Regions from separate parts of the Homo sapiens genome. Here region 1 is linked to region 2. The links come from fine-mapping of genetic effects on gene expression. Tissue or cell type: fibroblasts. Region 2 holds a variant in brackets; the other region holds the start of a gene. All regions are shown on one strand. Distances are from middle to middle.

Evidence for each region. PIP is the estimated chance that this variant, and not a neighbour inherited with it, causes the effect.
Region 1: DNAH11 starts here. The variant in region 2 is fine-mapped to the expression of DNAH11 in fibroblasts (GTEx, PIP 0.99).

Annotation. Positions count from the first base shown.
Region 1 is chr7:21,538,699-21,546,923 of GRCh38, reverse strand. DNAH11 (dynein axonemal heavy chain 11) reads right to left here and starts at 3,885. Exons shown (of 82, transcript NM_001277115.2): 1 at 3,328-3,885; 2 at 1,775-1,918. The coding sequence starts at 3,678. RefSeq lists enhancers at 763-1,729, 4,062-4,563 and a silencer at 3,964-4,013.
Region 2 is chr7:21,614,489-21,622,488 of GRCh38, reverse strand. It overlaps DNAH11 (dynein axonemal heavy chain 11), which reads right to left. Exons shown (of 82, transcript NM_001277115.2): 21 at 7,217-7,375; 22 at 6,197-6,280; 23 at 4,712-4,870; 24 at 3,267-3,389; 25 at 2,411-2,533. Among named protein-coding and RNA genes, the nearest start is that of DNAH11, 75 kb to the right of the region's middle. The variant A/C (reference allele first, on the strand shown) is at 4,401.

The DNA of each region.
Region 1 (8,225 bases), 76 kb after region 2:
ACTGTGGGGTTTCTCTTTATGACAGTTCTTAAACCATTCAATACAATTACTGAGGAAACACTTTTAAAATACAGAAGCCCAGGCCCCTCTAGATTTTTTAAATTGGAATTTCCAAGGATGGGGCCCAGATATTGACTGAGAAGAACCAAATGACATTTTCTTTATGTCTTGGTAAGCATTCACAATTATTGTTTCTTTTGAAATGTGGGCCAACGTGATACATAAAGAAATAACCATATGACATTTTATATACTTTGGCTAAGTATAAATATATAATACACTCTGGTATGGAAACACATCATAATGTTGAGGAGCAGGCATACCTTTTTCAGAATATTAAGCAGATCCTGGTACTGAGAGAAAGAGTAGAGAAATTTGAAAAAGGCTTGTATCTTCTGTTGCCAGACACAGATAGTAGAGCAAGAATTTCACAGTGTAGCCCTGCCCCTCCAAGTTCCAGTTGATAGTGGTCTAGATTCTCATATTGAACCAAAGTCATCAGATTCAGTTCAATTAAAATCTGAGCACCTGCTGCATACCAAAAATTGTTCCTGGTACTGAAGTTAAAAGATTGTCTTCCTAGCACCTCCCTGAAATCAGCTAAAGCCAATTAAATTCAACAGGAGCGAAGGGAAACCCAGGCAGGGTACAGGAGTTAGGGGTGAGAGACTTTGGTTAGTCCAGCAGGAAAATACCTCCCTTCAAAAAGACAGAAGAAGAGACTCAAAAAGTAGAAGAGGTGTGATCATGAGAGACTGGTAAATAACTAGCAATAAATATGTCAGCATTTTTCCTACCTTAAATATCGGCCTTGGCAGGACTACACTGATTACAGAGGTCTGATTTAGAAATTGGCCTTGTAGACAGATATCTAACCCAGTGGCTCCCAAAGCTCACTGTACATTAGAATCACCTGGGAATCTTGAACAACTGCTGCTACTTGGCTCCCATTCAGGACGTTCTAAATTAACTGGTATGGGTGTGACCTGGGGCATTGTGTTACAAGTTCCCCCAGGTGATCCTAATGTTCAGCGAAGTTTGAGAGCCAGGTTCTAGTTCCATGGAACCTGGTTATTTGGCAGTTGTTCTTCAAAGCTAGTCCACAAACAAAGAGCATCAGCAACAGGTTAGAAATGCAGAACCTCGGGCTCCACTCTAGACTGAATGAACCAACCTCTTTCACAAAATCCCCAGGCAGTTCTTATGCACATTAAAGTGTCAGTAACATTGGTTGAAGACTATTTCTCTATTTTAAGAGGAGAAAAAGAAAGTTTAAGAACCATTTCTAACACTTTCATCACCTTTTCCCATTATCTGCCATGAGTGAATCTTAGTCTTTAACTGTTAGTTTCTAACAAGTATAAAAAGGAACTGATAATACTCATTTTCAAAGTGTAAATTTGTCTCTACTCTGAATGTGAAGCTTAAAACCTGCTGCTAAGGTGCAAGAACCTATTCAAGTTGCTTTTTATTTGCTTCTATTGTGTTGGAAGGAAGAAAGGGAGAGAATGATCCCTGCAATTGCCACCTGTTGAATATTAGCATCAGTAAGCATGAGCTCCTTTCAGGAACAGTCTAGATGTTATGACTCCATCCACCTGGCTAGAGACTCCTGGCTTCTACAAGCTTTTTTTTTTTTTTTTTTTTTTAACCACCCCCATCCCCTTCCCTTCCCCTCCTAGCTCTTCTTTTTTTAATTATCGGAGTTGTCCTAAATAATTTCAAATGTCATGGAGATAAGTGAAAGCTTTAAATATTAAAGACAGACCAGTACCTCATCAAGGAAAGCAGATACATGTCCAAGAGACAACGCAGGTAACTCTCCAAATAAAACCACTTGAGAAAAGTCATTTACTCCAATGCTTTCAGTAATCTTCTTGGAAATAAAAACAAGTTTATGGTTTGCATCTCTTGGAATCTAAAACAAGAGCAAGATAATTAGTTCAAGTAGTTTTCTTGTTAACAAGCAGGATTTACTATATCCAACTTGTAGCTGTATTGCTAGCAGAAGAAACAAAACCTGGCATCTTGCCTGCCCTATAAACAAGGTCCTTCTACGGCTCTTCCCTAGTATGCAGCGAGTATACAGTTTTCTTTGTTCTTTTATAATGCTAATTTCACAGCATTACTGGTGTGGAAATATCACCTTTTAAAGGCATGCCAATTATACCAGTTCATTATACACCAAAAAAAAAATCTTATAACTAAAAACAAATAAGGAGCACGTAGGCATGTAGAAATGTTTCAATCCTAAAGGGTTATTTTTTATACTCTTCTCTGGTTTGGAAATAAGCCAAACTGAGATAAAGACAAGCCCAAGAGGTTAATTTGTATTTCTATCAAAGAATAGAACCGTATAACCAAAACATGCTAACATTTCCACAACTACTGAGTCATTCCATTGAACATTATAATAACTATTTAACTTAGGTAATACTAGAGTTGTGTTCTATCGCCTTGTCTACTGACAAACTTATTTTTTTTAAAGTTACAATTAGGAGAGTCCTAAAACAAAAGAATTCAAAATTCACAATACCATAAGGCAGCCTTCCTATTACTCTTTCTTCTCTGAGATCCTATTTCCCAACTATTACAATGACCACACCTAGTGATAAAACGACATAACATGTTAAACTGAGCATTGCGCTACTTAAAAATTGTGAATCTTGCTCCAAACTCATCATACTTGAAAAATACTAAATACAAGTGCTGTACGTTAGGTGATACGTTAACCTTTTAGTGGACAAATCATCGAAATTCAAAAAGAAAAGGAAGAAAAAGAAGAAAGGAGGGAACTGTTCCCTCTAAATGTTCAGTAAACACCCATGTGTGCGGAGATTGCAGGGGCCTTCCTTTTTAAGGACTTAATGTTTTTGCCTGGGGTGAAGTGTTGTTGGCACGTAATCAAAATACGTGACGAGTTACATGCGCTCTGCCAAACACCCCATTTTTTAAAGGATGTGACTCCAGAGTGACCCAAGAGCAACTGAAACGCAAGTTTTTTGGCACAGAAAGCCCACCTGGCGCCTAACACCCAAGCAGCTAAAGAAAGCGCTGGTGTTCTTGGGTTATCCTGGTCGAACAGGCTCAACGCGGGATTCTCGGTCAGATACAAACTGCTGACTTAGGAAACTAACCTGCAGCTGCTGAACTGCAGAGTGGGTGCACGTGGGGAGGAGTCCTGCGGGCCTCAGGATGGGGACTTCAAGCCAAGTTTGTTAAAGTGCCCGAGTGAGCGCCCCGCGGGAATCCAAAGGGGAGCGACTGGGCTGTCTCCCCTGGGTAGTTTTGTTGGATGGGCAGGTCCCCTTGCCCGTCGCCTCTTACCTCCTGGGAAGCCGCAAGGCGCCCCGAGGCGGCGAAGCTAAACACAAGGCAAGCCGGGCTGGTGCTTTCCAGAAACTCCCCAAGAACCTGCCGGTTGTCCTCGCTTTCCAAATACTGGCTCCATTTCTCCTCCGTGAACCCCAGCATCATCGCCAGGCGGCCGCCGAGGAAGCGCACCCGCGCGTCTTGGGCGAAACTCCGCGCTCTCCTGGCCGCCGCCTCCTCCTCGTTCTCCTCCTCCTCCTCGAGCTCCACAGCGCCCACTGCCTCCAGGCCGGCCCCCGAGGTTAGGCGAAGGGTCGGGGCTTCTCTGAAGTCTCGCGCCTCCCGGGCTGCCACCTGGGCTGCCATTGGGCAACCGTCCGAGGGAACGCGAGGCCGGCTGGCTCCTCACCCGAGACTCTGGGCCCCCCGAAGTGAGCGAGGACACCTCCGCAGGCGCCCACCCTCCTCCGCGGTCGCCGCGAGCGCAGACCCTAGTCTCCCACCTGCTGCTACTTAGCAGCCGCGCCACTGCGCACAGCTGTAGCCTCGCAGGCCGAAGCGAAGGCCTGGGACAAGCAGCGCGTCCCGTTTCCCGGGGGACGGTGTCCCCGCCCCAGCCCGCTGGGGGCGGAGTGAGCGCACCGCGCCACCGCCCAGTATACGCCAAGGCCAAGGCCGAGGGGAGAGGCCCTCGGGCTCTAGGTCCCGAACACGGCCGAGAAGCCGCGTGTCCGGGGTGGGTCTGAGCCCCCAGTGCGCTCGCTCCACTGCCCTCCGGCTCCTTCGCCTACTGGACACTTGGTGGAGATCCCAGCATTGGTTAAGTGCTCTGGATGAAGCAATGCTCTCTTGTGCCAAGGTCCGTGCTAATCTCTTACCTTGACTAGTTGACATAATCCGTAGAAAGCCAAGTCTCTGACTGGTCAGTCTTTGTTTTATGGGCAAGGAACTAAGTTACAAAAATAAGTAACAGAGAAGTTTCGGGGCCCAAGTTGAAGGCTGTTATTCACCTTTCCCAAGGTGTCCAAATATTACCAGAAGAGAGCCAGTCCTGCAATTCAACTTTCCTAGTTGTGGGAATCCAAGATCTAAGTATTCGAAGTCCTCCTGATTGCCATCCTCAACCTGAAACTTACTGGAACTTCAGTACACCCAGTAAGAGAACGCACAGTGCCCTTTCGTGATCTCCAAAATGTTCCGAAAATCTATAGATTTATCATTTAATTCAAGAGTAAAAAGGTCAAAGAGAAAAAGCTTCAGATTAAAAACAGTTTCATGATACTGAAATAGGATTTCACTGCGGTCCATTAGTGGCTTTCGTTGAGACTCTTATGGAAATTCTAATTATTAAAGCAACCAGAATTTTGAGGAGGAGTCCTCAACTAAACTTTTAAGTCTCCTTTGTTAATTGTTTATTTCAAACTAAAGTCTTCAATCCCCACCCCTTCCATGGGGGCTACTGAAGGACTGTTGCCCACAATAATCCATTTAATACCTGAATGTTGACAGACATTTCCAGAAGATGAGGCTTCAACAATTTTTTTCTTTGCAGGATATTAACTGCCCCTGAAAACCATCGACAAGTTTCCAGTTATGTGATCAGAATCTTGAAATAACACAGGGCCTTGGAAAACTTTGATAATGACTTCTAACCTGTCAAGGCTGCTTTATATTGTCCATAATAATCTTTGGGGCTCCCAGTTGCTGGTATACAAGGCTGGCAATCACCAGTTCCTTCTCTCCCCTCTTATATTCCAGCTTCACATCCCTGTAACCTAGAAAACCGGGAATTCTGTAAATAATAGTTGAATTAAATTGAAAGTGAATAACCACTTTCAAATCTAGCAGGAAAATTTTTTAAATGATGCTAACTTTAAAGTGCAATTTCCAAAAAGTTAACTATGTAACTCGAAATATAAGATGAAGATATGTCAAAGATTGATTTAACTCATAAATGAGGAAAGCAACAAAATGATGTAAGTTCCAAGGACAGTTCGAGAAAGAAATTTAGCAGCATTGGAGGAAGACAGGATGAGTCAGCTTGCTAGGTTCAAAACAACACTCACTAATGTCATACAGGGCAAAATAATCCTTTGTTTTTTAAAAAATAATTTGTTTTTCCAAAATAAATTACATCTGTATTGAACAAAAATCTGTAAATAAAAACGTAACTTCAGAGTTTGAGACTTCGATCAGTAGTAGTTAATGAGTCCAAAAAAGATACTTTTCCCTAAATAATTAATAATCCTTTCATTGGCCGGTGAAGCAGTGTTTCAATGTGACAGTGAATGAACATGGCTTTACCTTGTTCCCAAGTTTTATGTATTTTTTCTCAATAATAATAGCTAACATTGATCAAGTACCAATTATGTGCCATGTGCTGTGCTGAGTTCATTCATTTGTCTAACAAATCTTTACTGAATGCCTACTAAGTGCCAAGCACTGTTCTAGGTGCTGGGAAATATAACAGAAAACAAAACAGATTAAGTTTCTACCCTCATATTGGAGATACAGGCTAGATTTCTACTGAATAGAGTGGAGCTATACCAACTGAATTTGCATTCCATTTCTATTTTCTAGGTGCCTGAGTTTCCTCACCAGAAATAGGAAAAAAAAAATGGTAGATGAGACTATTTTTTAGCAAATATCTCTCCCCCAACCCCACCTTCATGAAAAGAGTATGCTTATACCTTTTTGTGCTATTAAAGTTGTGGCTGGCCATGTGACTTGCTTTGGTCCATAGGATATTGGCAGACATAACAAACAGAGGCATCGCTTCTTTTGGCTAAGATCAAGTGTAGTAGCAAACAGATGCTTGGAATGTCTTTGCATGGTGAGGCTTGCCTTCTTGTGCCTCTGCCACTGTCTTGAGAAGAACATCCCTAGTTAGCTTGCTAATGCAGGGAACCAGCCTGGACCCGACTTTTGTAGCTCAGAGGCAAGTCCAGCGAAGGCTAGTCTTGATCAATCTACTCTCAGTCAGCCCACAGATGCATGAAAATAATGAATGATTATTGGTTTTAAGCTACATAGTTGTGGTGAGGTTTGTTATGTAGTGATAGTATGGTAATAGTAAATGATACACCACATCATAGAGTTGTTGGGAGAAATAATTCAGCTTAAATATGTTAAAAGCACAAACAGGCCAACGCCTGGCACATTTATTATTAGTTGTGGAGGGGGAAACATGAGAAACTAGGCAAGCAAAGATATAATATGTTTATTATGTCAGATGTGACAGGAAATTAAATTTTGGGACTCTAAACTCGTTTAGCCAATGGGAAAAGTCAAGCTGGGAACTGGGTCATGCAAATCTGCCTCTCCCTTTTCGTTCCTAAATAAGATGGCTACAAGATGAAAGGCTACATGCCTCCCCCATATTTTGCCCACAGGGAAATTATGGGTGAGCTGTTAAAACTTCACCATAGCAATGCAAATTGATAGCTTGTCTTTCCAGGTGCAATCACCCACCAGACACAAATGCATATCTGATTGTTCCCCTACCCCATTTTGTTATCTTATGTAAAATGCGATTCCTCACATTCTTCCTCTGCCCCCTTTTGTTTATGTGAAAACCTGTGTGCTTCTCAATATCCCGCCCTTTCCCCTTTAAATTTGGAGCCCTCAAATTTATCTTCGGAGAAAGGCATAGACTTGTCTCCCAGAGTGTCCTTAACTTTGGCAAACAAATCTCCTAAAATGATTGAGACTTGTCATTTTCCTCGATTGACACAGATGATCAATTCTAAGAAGAAAAGCAACGGAGGGTAAAAGGTTGGGTATGGAGAGCATGTTAATTACCATTGGTGTTTAAGGAAGGGCTTACTTTTGAGCAGAATTCTGAGAGTGAGCCATGCGTTCTGGAAGAACACTTCAGGCAGAGGGAAGGGCAAGTAGACCCACAAGAGAGGATGCTTGATTTTTGGAGAAACAGCAAGAATGCCAGTAAGAGGGAGAATAGCAAGAGATGAGGACAAAGAAGAAATATGAGACAAAAATCACATAGGGCTGTGATAATAGCTAGATTTTTTTAAAAGAAGATGATGTAGCAGAAACTGCTAACTGTCCCCAGTGTCCATTCACCTTTTCCTTCTCTTGGAAATACGACATTTACCCCTGTTCCAAGTTTTAATGGGACTCATGTCCACCCAAACTGTATACCTCATTTACTTTTCACTTCACATTAGCTAAAAGGGAAACTAGGAAATTTTCTTTGTAGCTAATGTGAAGTGAAAGTAAATGAGGTATAAAATGCTTGTATCATATTCTTAGAATTTCCCAGTTCTCCATTTCCTCTTGTCTTTCCAACTTGCTGACTAGTATATCAACATGAAATGCTGAACCGTGTTCAATTATGCAAATGTCCCTTAAACATATAGCAAGATGCTCAACTTCCCTCACAAAAGAAAAATACAAATTCAAACAAGAGTACAAGACTATTTTTTCACTTACTGGTTTTAAGAATGACATCATATTATTGGCATGGCTGAGGAAACAGGCACTTTCATACATCACTTCTGGAAATTCAAAATGATATAACCCCATAGAATTCACTGATTTCTAGAAAAAATCCTACGCATTTGTCCTTTGACCCAGCATCTTTATTCTAGAAATCTACGCACAAGGTTAGTCATTATAGCACTAATGGTAAGAGCAAAACACTGGAAATAAGCCAAATATCCTGCCATAGGAGATGGGTTCAATAAACTATCTAACATCCAAACAATGGAGTAATATACAGCTAAGAAAAAAGGATGCAACCAACTGGGGCCTCCTGGCACCCCCACCCATGTTCTATAGCCGACAGAGTTCTAATTTAACCCTGGGATGGATTGCCCAGAGTGCAGGACAGGCTACCACCTTGGCTGTTTGTGTGTCTCAGCCAGGCCAGCCTATGGGTCTTGGAGAGCTCA
Region 2 (8,000 bases):
GTGCCATATGAACTTTAAAGTAGTTTTTTCCAATTCTGTGAAGAAAGTCATTGGTAGCTTGATGGGGATGGCATTGAATCTATAAATTACTTTGGGCAGTATGGCCATTTTCACAATATTGATTCTTCTTACCCATGAGCATGGAACGTTCTTCCATTTCTTTGTATCCTCTTTTATTTCATTGAGCAGTGGTTTGTAGTTCTCCTTGAAGAGGTCCTTCACATCCCTTGTAAGTTGGATTCCTAGGTATTTTATTCTCTTTGAAGCAATTGTGAATGGGAGTTCACTCAGGATTTGGCTCTCTGTTTGTCTGTTATTGGTGTATAAGAATGCTTGTGATTTTTGTACGTTGATTTTGTATCCTGAGACTTTGCTGAAGTTGCTTATCAGCTTAAGGAGATTTTGGGCTGAGACAATGGGGTTTTCTAGATATACAATCATGTCATCTGCAAACAGGGACAATTTGACTTCCTCTTTTCCTAATTGAATACCCTTTATTTCCTTCTCCTGCCAAAATGCCCTGGTCAGAACTTCCAACACTATGTTGAATAGGAGTGGTGAGAGAGGGCATCCCTGTCTCGTGCCAGTTTTCAAAGGGAATGCTTCCAGTTTTCGCCCATTCAGTATGATATTGGCTGTGGGTTTGTCATAGATAGCTCTTATTATTTTGAGATACGTCCCATCAATACCTAATTTATTGAGTTTTAGCATGAAGGTTGTTGAATTTTGTCAAAGGCCTTTTCTGCATCTATTGAGATAATCATGTGGTTTTTGTCTTTGGTTCTGTTTATATGCTGGATTACATTTATTGATTTGTGTGTATTGAACCAGCCTTGCATCCCAGGGATGAAGCCCACTTGATCCTGGTGGATAAGCTTTTTGATGTGCTGCTGGATTCAGTTTGCCAGTATTTTACTGAGGATTTTTGCATCAATGTTCATCAAGGATATTGGTCTAAAATTCTCTTTTTTGGTTGTGTCTCTGCCCGGCTTTGGTATCAGGATGATGCTGGCCTCATAAAATGAGTTAGGGAGGATTTCCTCTTTTTCTATTGATTGGAATAGTTTCAGAAGGAATGGTACCAGTTCCTCCTTGTACCTCTGGTAGAATTCGGCTGTGAATCCATCTGGTCCTGGACTCTTTTTGGTTGGTAAGCTATTGATTATTGCCACAATTTCGGAGCCTGTTATTGGTCTATTCAGAGAGTCAACTTCTTCCTGGTTTAGTCTTGGGAGGGTGTATGTGTCGAGGAATTTATCCATTTCTTCTAGATTTTCTAGTTTATTTGCATAGAGGTGTTTGTAGTATTCTCTGATGGTAGTTTGTATTCAACTCTTGTGGAAGTCAGTGTGGCGATTCCTCAGGGATCTAGAACTAGAAATACCATTTGACCCAGCCATCCCATTACTGGGTATACACCCAAAGGATTATAAATCATGCTGCTATAAAGACACATGCACACGTATGTTTATTGTGGCACTATTCACAACAGCAAAGACTTGGAACCAACCCAAATGTCCAACGAGGATAGACTGGATTAAGCAAATGTGGCACAGATACACCATGGAATACTATGCAGCCATAAAAAATGATGAGTTCATGTCCTTTGTAGGGACATGGATGAAATTGGAAATCATCATTCTCAGTAAACTATCACAAGAACAAAAAACCAAACACCGCATATTCTCACTCATAGGTGGGAATTGAACAATGAGAACACATGGACACAGGAAGGGGAACATCACACTCTGGGGACTGTTGTGGGGTGGGGGGAGGGGGGAGGGATAGCTTTAGGAGATATACCTAATGCTAAATGACGAGTTAATGGGTGCAGCACACCAGCATGGCACATGTATACATATGTAACTAACCTGCACATTGTGCGCGTGTACCCTAAAACTTAAAGTATAATAGTAAAATTTAAAAAAAAGAATAAAATCCTGGTTTGCAACAACATGGATGACCCTAAAGGACAGTGCTAAGCAAAATAAGCCAGGAACAAAAAGACAAATATTGTACGATGCCATCTACACGTGGAATCTAAAAAAGTTGAACTCATAGAAACAGAGAGTAGAATGATGGTTACCAGAGCCGGGGGGAGGGGGCAAGAGGAGCTGTTGATCAAAGGGTACAAATTTTCAGTTAGACAGGAGGAATAAGCTTTAGTGATCTATTGCACAGTTGGTGACTACAATAAATAATAATGCATTGTATGTTTCAAAATTCCTAAAGGAGATTTTAAGTGATTCACCACAAAAAAAATGTTAAGTGTATGAGATGACGGTTAGCCTGATTTAATCTTTCCACATTGTAAACATACATCAAAACATCACATGGTACCCTATATATACAATTATTTGTCAAATAAAAATAAAATGAAAAATATATGCAATAAAAATATCCATCTTACTTGGTTGTGCTCTAGAGTTTCAAAAAGTTGTTCATCAGACTTTAGTAATGGAATGCCTGTTCGATAGTGAACTTCGTAAGAAAACTTCATGGTTGCCCAGGTCTGACTGATTTCAGTAATAACCTAGTAATCAACAATATAATTAATGTGCACAAAATTTAATTGATAATCAATATGTAGACTATTATCTGGAATTAATTTTTTTCAACTTTCAAAAATGCAAACTGATATCAAGTATTATTGGCTTGAGTTTTTTCCTCCAAGTAATTCATGCTAATGGGGTTTGAAGAATGAATTTTATCACATCAAAGGTATGAGCATCACACTAACATCAAACTTCTACTGAATGTGAGTTTATCATCCCTAACCAAAACACAATTCAAGAGCAGGAAGGGACTTAAATGTTTGGTAGATACTATTTACAAATTAGCCAGCATGAAACAGGTAATGCCTCAAATGTGAATGAATCTCAGTCTTCTGTGTGAATCTGGGTAAGTTAATTATCTCTTTATACCTCAGTTTCCCCATGTGTAAAATAGAGATACTATTACTTACCTCAGAAGATTAAATGGGTTAATATAAATAAAGCACTCAGAGTGGTGTTGGCTACAAAATAAAGGATATGTAAGTATTTTCTGCTATAATCATCATCATCAACAAGACCAATCCTCCTGTTTTACTGTGGCTTAGAATGATTCTAGTTCCTGCTCATCCCACACCTAATGAACAGCAGGGAACAAACTGGGACTCATCTCTCCAGGCTCCCAGGACATCAAAAGGACTTTTCTCTAAGTTGGCTTCTATGCAAATACCCAAAATTAGCCAAGTAGAAATGACCCAGTCCCGAGGACACTACCTTCTCAGTCCCCAGCTCTTTCACCGCCTTGTCCACAATCCTTCGGACATCATCTTCCACTCTGTGTAACCGCAGTGCTAACAAATCTGCCAAAGTTGTGGCTTCATTTATTAAAAACTTGACCTGATTGGGGGAAAAAAAGTTAGACTTTATATTCCACATATATGAACGGTTCCTTTTGCCTAAAGGCTGGTGAAATGAATCTTAACTAAAATATACTCAAGTCAGGTGCTGAGTACATCTCTCGTCTTGAAATACGTGGAGAATCTAAGACACTCCTTTTTAACTCACAATTCCTGAGGCGTCACCTGCCGGAAGCAAGGGCCACAGTTTAGTCACATCCGTGCTACACTATTTTCTTTGTTTCACATCTTTCCCTTGTCGGCACGTTTCTTATCTCCTTTGCCCACAAAACCCATTTTTAAAGAGAATCTCATTGTTCATTTATTATAATTTGGTTGAAATCCCAGGAATCAGGTAGTGGCTCATTTGTCTTTTCTTCCTAAAGAACCCTATTCACTGAACATAATTCCCAGCTGCTTCTGTGATTTAACCTAGTTTTATCACTAATTTAATCTCAGTTCATTGGCAAAAAAAATAGTCTTACAGTGTCATTATTCATATTTACCATGTGAAAAATAATTCTCATTTCCACATTGTCTTGTGACAATGACTCCCCTTCTCTCACATTGACTCTCCTTCCCTCCCCTATATTGGGTCCTTGAGACATCCTCAGCTCTTCGACATACCCAAACTCACTCATGTCTCCTGTAAGTGAAGAGTTGAGCCAGCCATATGGGTTGCAGGAAAGCCATTTTCTTTCCGGCTTTTGCTAAGAATATCCAGAATCTGCTTCTTGGAAGCTGCCACCCTCTGCCCCTCCCTACCCTCTAACATTCCTTAGCACCATCCACGCCTCTGCATAAGAGGACCAAATGCCCTGATTTGCTCCGGACTGAGGGGTTTCTAGCAAGTGGATTTCAGGGATGTGATACTTTCAGTGCTAAAATCTGGAAAGTCCTGAGAAAGCTAGATGAGTTTGCCAGACTATCTCTGTGTCAACTTTGGCCTCACTCCAGAGTTGCTGGGAGCCAGGGAGCTAGGTCTGTCCTTGAGAAAGAATGAGGAGAGATG[A/C]GTAATAGGGCCACCCTGATTAGTTGTGCAATCTGTGTACTGAACGTGGACACCAGCCCAGATGACAAATGGAGATGGAAGCCAGCCTCCGCTCTGCTGTCCTGGGGACAGCCTGGAGGAGGGTGCCTTTTTCTAAATTGTTGGTCGGATCAGGCGACTTTTTCTAGACAGCAAAAAGGCATAACACAGCAAGTAGAGGCTATGCTGAGGGGGGTCTTTTCATAAATTACACTTCATCTCAGATGATGCAAACCAAGAAGTAACACTTCACAGTCATAAAAAGGTTCATTAGTGAGACCAAGGATACTGACCCCAATAGCTTTCATCAGCTGGTGCCAATGCCTGTCCCTGAGGGCAGGGCTCTGTAACTCTGTGATGGCCCTCAGGGAGGCTGTCATGTCCTTAACTGTGCCTTCCAGGCCCGTGTAAGCATCCCAGACGCGGACTTCCTTGTTGAGTGACCAAATTTCCTAAAGAAAAGTGGAGGAAAAAACCTAGCTCCCAAGATATAACACAGTATATATTAATAATTTGCCTCCTTTGACATATATTTCCCAACTCCTGGATTAGAAAAGAGTGAAAGCATTTGAACTCCTAGACCAAGGAGCAAAACCAGAGAAACGAAAAGGGATCCACTCATTTGTACATTACAAGCCCACTCCGTACAAGCCACTTGTATACACTGCTTTCTCATTCACAAGATCTAACTGAATGTCCCATGAGGAAACACAGGTAAGTAACAGAGTTCACAGGACACGTGCAATGAAGAATGTTTCTTCTATAAACATAAGTAAATGGAAACAGACTGTTATCAGATTACTAAGACCTCCTTCGGAATACATGACTCATTTAAACAACAGCCTTGGAATGTTGATTACCTTTGAGTGCCTGTTTCTTGAAACCTAAATATTTCATCATCTTAAAATGCCAAATAGGTCCTTTGACTTGGCTGGTCCTCTCAGCCCAAGGAAAAACATCAGCAATTGTGAATGAGAAAACCCATAAGAAAACAACTAGAACTTAGCACGAAATAAAGGACAATGTGACCCCATGACATCCGAAAGAATGAAGGGACATTTTAGTTTGGGTCTTTGGGACTGGCATAATATGGGGGAAAATACAGGCGAGAGTGGGTAGAAGCTGAGGCAAGGAAGCCCTGGGGTGGAAAAAAAGCAAATGGTCCTGTCACTTTTAACTGCCTTTCACTGATATGCATTTTGCCTTTATCCAAAGATGCTCTGTCTTCAGAGGGCATACGGCTATGCAGAATAGACATCAAATTCCAATAAGTACCAAATTACAATAGGCTCAGTTCTGTATATGTTGAGCCCCCTTGGGATACCAGAGTCATTAATAAGAACAAAGATCATAGTATTCCGCATAAATCCAGAGGTGGCATGCTCCTATTAGTTGCCCCAAATTCCAGAGCCAAAAGGTACCTTTTCAGATACAAAATGTTTATGGTTGCTAAGCAAAGAAATCAAAAGCTTTCAGAAGCCTGACCCCTTGGCCCTGATAATGTTCCTCTCTGTTCTAGGAAGCTGTAGGAAGCTCATAATTAGAGTAGCTTCTCATAAATTCATTAACCCTAATATGCTTCTATCAACTCACTCACAGAAAGACAGGCTTGATTAGAAGTGCAACTGGCTAAGGGTGAAAAAAACACTGTCTGCTATCACTCTGTTAGAAGTAAATAAGTACATGCAGCCCAATACACCAGATACTAGATTAGGGAAGATGGAAGGAGGTGGTGCTGAGAAAGATAAATTGTTGTAATAGACAGTTATGGAACTCGCCTTGGCAAACCTTCTGAGTTCTACATCCATCTGTTCCACATGAATCTGTCTCCACTGGGTTTTAGTCCAATTATCAATGCTTCTCTGAAAACGCAAAAGCAGATAAAAGTGTCAACAACATTTGGTGAAAGCAAGTCTCTGCAGCAAAATATATAAACTGATGATACACTGTAACTCTATCATCCAGTGGAAAGTCAATTTTTAAAATATTAACTGCACTTGTCAAAACTTCCCTATCACCAAAACAAAAAAGTTGTCAGAACACGTCAAGCTAAAGGCTAAAACATTATGATATATTAATTTCTAGTAGCGATGATAAATTCCATACACATACCATCATTATCACTTAATCCTGTGTACTTTGAATAAATTGATAAGTAGATTATTAAATAACAGACTTTTATAATTCTACATGTAACTAAATAAGCTTTCACATGACAATTTTCAACCATTATAAACAAAACTCTCATCAACCATTTCTTGACCATATTTTATATTTTGTTAATATATTTCTATATGGCTTTCAACTAACATAAAAGATTATAGTGCTTGTTGCAATATGCCTCATTCCCTAGAACTTACTTTTTCACTTAAGTTTTTAACTTAATTAACCACATACAAATTATTTTTAGGAAGGGTCTGTTTGTGTATGCCCAGGCATGTAAGTATAAGCATAGGAATATGTATGAGTTGGTATGCACAGATGACTACACATGTAATATATATTTATATATTAATTTTTATTTTATTTATATTCTTTACAATCTCCCCAAAGGATTTGAGGCAGTCAGCTTATTAAACAAAGTTTCATCCTGAACTAAAAATAAAAACAACTGGTATTCAAAGAAGAATCATCCACTAACAGAGATACATGAACTCTAATTTGGGGCTGGGGTGAGGATCTAATTTCCACATATTTCAAGACATTATAAAACCCAAATAGAATAATATAGGCTCCACAAACTGCATATGTAAAAGAACTACTAAATAAAAAGCATGTTTTGAAAAAGCACATCTTACTCGAACATAAATAATGACATCCCACAGTCCCTTGAGCAATTTTATTTCTTTGCGACACTGTTTCATTTGTTTGTACTCTGGAAGAGCCACTTCAAAAAGACGAGTAGATTCTTGCATCTGCAACATTTCTTCTTCTAAGGCCTCAAGCTCTTCATTTGCCTAAGGAGAGAACATAAACACCTGCATACAAACTGCCAGAGAAAGAGAAGACATGCAGTTCTGTAGCTCTGGTTATCTCGACATTTCAATCTTTGATTTTTAACGGGAAAATAAAAATAAATCTGCAGCGTAATTACTGGCAAAATGTAGGTTTTAGAAGAGCAAACTCAGCTGCACAAAAAGTGAGAACAGATTACTGTTAAACACAGTAACTTCAACAATACTGTCCCTATACACGTATTAGCAAAATTTCTTCTTCATCAGATTTCTCTGAATACAATTTTTCCTCTTGGTTTTTGTACCGAGAGCTGGGGAATTTGCTGAAGAACAAAAGGTGGGGCTCTAGAAACTTCCATGTAAGAATGAATTATATTTTAAGTAATGACTTAGTTTATTAAAACTTTCAGATTTAAAAAATACCCTACAGATTATCAATAATATCAAATGCACTCAAGAGAATTTGTGAAATAAAGCATAAAGCTAAAAACACAGCCCAGTATGAAAACATCACCATATGACTGTCTTTATCAAGGTTCAATTATATACCCCATCTACATAGAATAGTTTACATTTTACACCAAACGTAAATGCTGACATGTTTTTTCTTTTGTGATGACCAAGTCTT